2 separate regions of the Homo sapiens genome follow, and region 1 is linked to region 2. The links come from fine-mapping of genetic effects on gene expression. A gene starts in region 2. The other region holds a variant in brackets. All regions are shown on one strand. Distances are between the middles of the regions. Region 1 overlaps LOC107984281 (a long non-coding RNA gene). Region 2 holds the start of MGMT (O-6-methylguanine-DNA methyltransferase).

Region 1 (3,012 bases), 330 kb after region 2:
AAAGTGGAAATATTAGGTGGTGAGAACTTGGCAGTCTCTCCAACTTGGAAGGCGCACCCGCTATGCAATAATGGGTCAAAAATTCATTCAAGTTTTACTGCTGTTCCGAGTTTTAAAAGACTTTTCACAGTTGAATGCAAAGTAGTAAAAACCAGGGTATTAGGAAATGAGAATGCAGTTCTGTTATTCAGACATGACTTTTAATTTCAAATTGAAATCACATGCTCACTTTTCTGGATATGACCGAAGGGAAAAGGTACAGGCTGAAGAGATTTTGTCTTTAAGGGTAAAAGTCCCGAGTGGAAATGAATTTATTGCTGGGCCAGCCTCAAAATCAGCACTGTCCATGACTGAGGAAGTGTGGCGATCGCCTCCCACCCAGAGAAGCAGCCGCATTTGTACTGGAAGCCAAGTTCATCAGCAGCTCTCTCTCTATCCACCCCCGGACAGGGTCTCAAACCAGGGACTGGAGAAGTGTGTTGGGACAGGCACACACATGCACACATGTGCACACACTGTGTGTCCCACCAACACAACGCATGCACATTCACACACACACACTTGGTCTCTGCCTCATACACACATGCACACACACTTGGTCTCAGCCTGTTACACATTCACGCACACACGCTCCATCTCTCCCTCCTACACGTGCACACTCGCACATGCATGCACGGTCTCTGCCTCTTACACAGGTAGAGAAGAAAAAGACAAGTGGGCTTCCAGGAGTCTCACTTCTGCCTGCACGGAGTCTCCATTAGTATTTCTCTCCCTCATTTATCATCCCGGGCACAGTCCCCTGCCTGTCGCCAAATTTTCTTTTCCATGAAAAATCTCTCCTTCGGAGAAGAGCTTCTCCCTGACTGGTTGTCAAATACGCTTTTGATTTTCTCACACACCGACTTAAAAGGCAGGCGGTTCAGGGCAAAGCCGGCACCCAGTAGGCCTTTCTGCTTCTCGAATCTTTGACTGTGCAGGTTGTTCCCCCACCCCCACCCCATTTTAACTTATTGATTTGAACTGTCAAGTAAATGACTCCGTTGCACTTAATCAGAATCATAGACTTCTGCCATCCCAATTAGAATTCGAGGCCATGCACCGGAGCTCCACATGTGTGGCTCTGCTGGAGGGCTGGGCACAGCCCCTGCACCTAGGGCTCTCTGGTGCGATGGTTTGCAGGATAAATCCTGCCCTGGGAGCAAAGGCCATCTGCAGTAGGCATGCAAGCCGATGCTGTCCTGTAGGTATTTGCCAAATATTTATTTTTCCCTGAAATGATGCAAACGATTTGGTGAAGCCTTCCCATGACCAATTCAGGATGCGGAATGATTTAGCATTCAGTAAATTTCACAACACCTTTCTGCCTCCCTCTTCCCTCTCCCCTCTCCCCTTCTCCCCACCTCACCCCACCTCACCCCCTCCCTCTTCCTTCCTCTTTTCCTTCCCTCCTCCTTTCTTTTTTACCCTCTCCTGCCCCTGACCCGGTACCTATACCACTTGGATTATTTACAGCAAATCTTACAGATGTCAGTATTGTCTTGTTCTGAAGCTAAAAAGGACAATGAGTTCCCGCTGACCTCGGTACAATGGATCTCGCTGGAGCACAATATGTATTTTATACAGGCAGTGAAAAGCCTACAAGTAATTGAGAGAGAGAGAAATGTCACTGTAGCATTTCTGTTGACACTGCACTCTGCGTGTGGAGGGAAGCCCGGGGCCTGGCGGCAGAGGAGCAGCCGC[A/G]GCCGCGCTGTGCACCCAGGAACCTGTCCTTCAGGAAGGAGGCGGCGGTAGAAATTAATCTGCTCAGATTTTCCAACTAATGAAGTATTCCCAGGACCGAAGGGGCCACACAGAGACGTCTGCGGCGCTGCTTCCCATTCGCGCAGATGCACACGGATTCCGGGCCCAGCGCTAACTCGGATGTGTTTTCCAGCTCCGTTTATTGTCTTCCATAATGCTTAACGTACTGTTTGTATATGTTGTCCTTGCACTATATTTTGATATGCTCTCATATATTTTATTCATCTCTGGCTTTCTACGAAGGCAAGCTCGCAGCAACACTGAGAATAATTATTCTCCGCCATCAATCAAGAGTCTCCGTGGTTGGCTCCTCATGGGATGGCCTTGATTTTAAGCATGAAATGTAACTCTTGCTCTTTGGGGCCATTTCATTCTTTGTTCCTGGGGCCTGCCTGTGGGCTCGTCGGGACACTAGAGAGCAGGCATTCCCGTGGCCGCGGGAGAGCCGCGTTCCTGGCTGGCCATTCCCGGGCCCTCTAGAAGGGAGCGGCTGAGAGCTCTTTAGCCCTACTTGGGGTTTAAAAGTGAAAAAGGAGCAGCTCTTCCTGGTGGAAATTGCGAGCAGAGGCTGCGTGAGTTCCGTAACTCGCACACAGCCTCCATTTGGAGCCAGAATGAGCACGTGAGGGACCCCGGGCAGAGGGGCCAGTGCTGACATTATGCTCCATGCAACCTCCCATCCTGTTGTGGGAGATGGTGCAGACCAGGGGAGGGAGTCAGTGTGTGAGGGGATGAGGCTCCAGTCCTTTCCTGGGCACCAAAGCCAAATCCCCCCTGAGCACAAGGATCTTCCCTGGGTGACTGCAGAAGCAAGGAGACCTGGCCCACCGTCCCTGCTGGCTTCCTACTGCCCAGCCGCGTCTCTGCCTCCCTACCCCAAAGCCTGCAGCTCCTAAGTGCACTATTTGGGCTGTCTTGTTTGCAGCGGATGTTTGAAAGACAGACCCTCTTCTCTAGTGCTGGCCTTGAGTCCTCAGAGAGCTGCTGTTTCCTGGGTTTCTAGCTCCATGGAGGCAGAAAGAGACCCCAGGGTGGCCTTTGGAGGAAGATGAGCCCCCTGGGTTAACCGAGCTTCTGCAGTGGTGCTCCTGGGTCATCACTGTTGCCACTGGTCAGAGCCAGAGTGTGTCTGCCTGTGCTCTCCTGAACACAGTGGAGCTATTTCCAAGTTCAGGTGAAGGGGACATGGAGGTTAAGCAAGGCCAGAAAGAC
Region 2 (2,707 bases):
AAATGTGAATGGCTGCTTGGAACACAGTGTTGAGAAGGATTCCGAGGCTGTGTCCAGGTTCAGTGGGGAAAAAGTGCCTTGATTTGACCATTATATCGTGTACTCAGGGCCTAGTTTATTTCCCACAAGCAGCTATTTAAAACATGTCTCATCCAAGGCAGGGTCGGGGTGGGGAACCTCAGAGGATCAATGATGCAGCCTGTATTGTCACCAGGGCTCATCCCAAAGCAAATCCTGCTGAAGTTCTCCTCTGAACAACCCTTATCACTCATGCTAATATGTTGGATCCTGCAAGTCACAAATACGAAGGTATGAGCATTGGCCGAATCCCAACAGGGAAACTTCACCGGGAAGGTGAAGACCCCTTTCCATTAAGATAACAAACAGAACCTAGAAGGCCCGTAGCATGGTGGCTTAGAACATGTGGGCCTTGGATGGGATCCTGCCAAGGGGTGTGTGACCTCTCCGAAGCCTCCAGGGATGATACTACTCCCTGGGGTGCTTATGCCAACCACGTTAGAGACAATGGTTTCTGTACCCATTGCCTGGGGCTGCCATAATAAAGTGCCACACACTGAGTGGCTTAAAACAACAGAAACCTATTGTCTCACACTTCCGGGGGCCAGAAGTTTGAAACCCAGGTGTGTTAGGATCCTGCTCCCTCTGAAGGCTCCAGGGAAGAGTGTCCTCTGCTCCCTCCGAAGGCTCCAGGGAAGGGTCTGTCCTCTTAGGCTTCTGGTGGCTTGCAGGTGCAGCCCTCCAATCCTCCTCCCCAAGCGGCCTTCTGCCTATAAGGACACGAGTCATACTGGATGAGGGGCCCACTAATTGATGGCTTCTGTAAAGTCCCCATCTCCAAATAAGGTCACATTGTGAGGTACTGGGAGTTAGGACTCCAACATAGCTTCTCTGGTGGACACAATTCAACTCCTAATAACGTCCACACAACCCCAAGCAGGGCCTGGCACCCTGTGTGCTCTCTGGAGAGCGGCTGAGTCAGGCTCTGGCAGTGTCTAGGCCATCGGTGACTGCAGCCCCTGGACGGCATCGCCCACCACAGGCCCTGGAGGCTGCCCCCACGGCCCCCTGACAGGGTCTCTGCTGGTCTGGGGGTCCCTGACTAGGGGAGCGGCACCAGGAGGGGAGAGACTCGCGCTCCGGGCTCAGCGTAGCCGCCCCGAGCAGGACCGGGATTCTCACTAAGCGGGCGCCGTCCTACGACCCCCGCGCGCTTTCAGGACCACTCGGGCACGTGGCAGGTCGCTTGCACGCCCGCGGACTATCCCTGTGACAGGAAAAGGTACGGGCCATTTGGCAAACTAAGGCACAGAGCCTCAGGCGGAAGCTGGGAAGGCGCCGCCCGGCTTGTACCGGCCGAAGGGCCATCCGGGTCAGGCGCACAGGGCAGCGGCGCTGCCGGAGGACCAGGGCCGGCGTGCCGGCGTCCAGCGAGGATGCGCAGACTGCCTCAGGCCCGGCGCCGCCGCACAGGGCATGCGCCGACCCGGTCGGGCGGGAACACCCCGCCCCTCCCGGGCTCCGCCCCAGCTCCGCCCCCGCGCGCCCCGGCCCCGCCCCCGCGCGCTCTCTTGCTTTTCTCAGGTCCTCGGCTCCGCCCCGCTCTAGACCCCGCCCCACGCCGCCATCCCCGTGCCCCTCGGCCCCGCCCCCGCGCCCCGGATATGCTGGGACAGCCCGCGCCCCTAGAACGCTTTGCGTCCCGACGCCCGCAGGTCCTCGCGGTGCGCACCGTTTGCGACTTGGTGAGTGTCTGGGTCGCCTCGCTCCCGGAAGAGTGCGGAGCTCTCCCTCGGGACGGTGGCAGCCTCGAGTGGTCCTGCAGGCGCCCTCACTTCGCCGTCGGGTGTGGGGCCGCCCTGACCCCCACCCATCCCGGGCGAGCTCCAGGTGCGCCCCAAGTGCCTCCCAGGTGTTGCCCAGCCTTTCCCCGGGCCTGGGGTTCCTGGACTAGGCTGCGCTGCAGTGACTGTGGACTGGCGTGTGGCGGGGGTCGTGGCAGCCCCTGCCTTACCTCTAGGTGCCAGCCCCAGGCCCGGGCCCCGGGTTCTTCCTACCCTTCCATGCTGCCAGCTTTCCCTCCGCCAGCTGCTCCAGGAAGCTTCCAGAAGCCCCTGCGCGGGCCTTGGCTTGCAGCAACCCTTTAGCATACTTAGGCAGAGTCCCATATTTCCTTCCTGCTGGAGGCCAAGTTCTAGGGGCCTTCTGGTTACTATGGCTGGTGTTTGTGTACATCATACCCTAACTGTATTCATCAACACTTAGAGTAAGCAAGGCTCGCTGGAGAGCCACACACACTGGGCACCGTAATGTCGGTTATAACACCGCAGAGGAGTTCTGAACTATGTATTTCGCACTCCTGGGTTCATCATCTCCTGAAATCTCAGGGTGGTGTTTGCTCTCAGTTGCTTCAGCTGAGTAGCTGGCTTTCTGTCCTGGAAAGCAGACTTTGTACATGTGTGTGCAACCTATGCCTGCTGAGATCATCATCAGACAGGGAAGCGGCTTGGTCCAGAGAGCTGTTCTCAGTAGAATGTTAAGCACAGAGAGCTGAGAATTAGACTGGTTATTTACATAGACATCCAAATAGAAACCTATAGAGTATCTGTTAAGTCAGGCTCTCCCGTCATCTCCCCCATCCCTGGGCAGGTGTCTAGGAGATGGTTTTGTTATTTTCAGGGCCCTCTCA

What was found. PIP is the estimated chance that this variant, and not a neighbour inherited with it, causes the effect. A credible set is the group of variants that fine-mapping cannot tell apart.
Region 1: its variant is the best candidate, but not a certain one, in a credible set for the expression of MGMT in tibial artery (GTEx, PIP 0.72).

The regions. Positions count from the first base shown.
Region 1 is chr10:129,792,434-129,795,445 of GRCh38, forward strand. All of the region lies in intron 3 of LOC107984281 (a long non-coding RNA gene), which reads left to right. Among named protein-coding and RNA genes, the nearest start is that of MIR4297, 49 kb to the right of the region's middle. The variant A/G (reference allele first, on the strand shown) is at 1,741.
Region 2 is chr10:129,465,534-129,468,240 of GRCh38, forward strand. MGMT (O-6-methylguanine-DNA methyltransferase) reads left to right here and starts at 1,708. Exons shown (of 5, transcript NM_002412.5): 1 at 1,708-1,763. RefSeq lists silencers at 1,348-1,787, 1,808-2,007 and an enhancer at 1,574-2,496.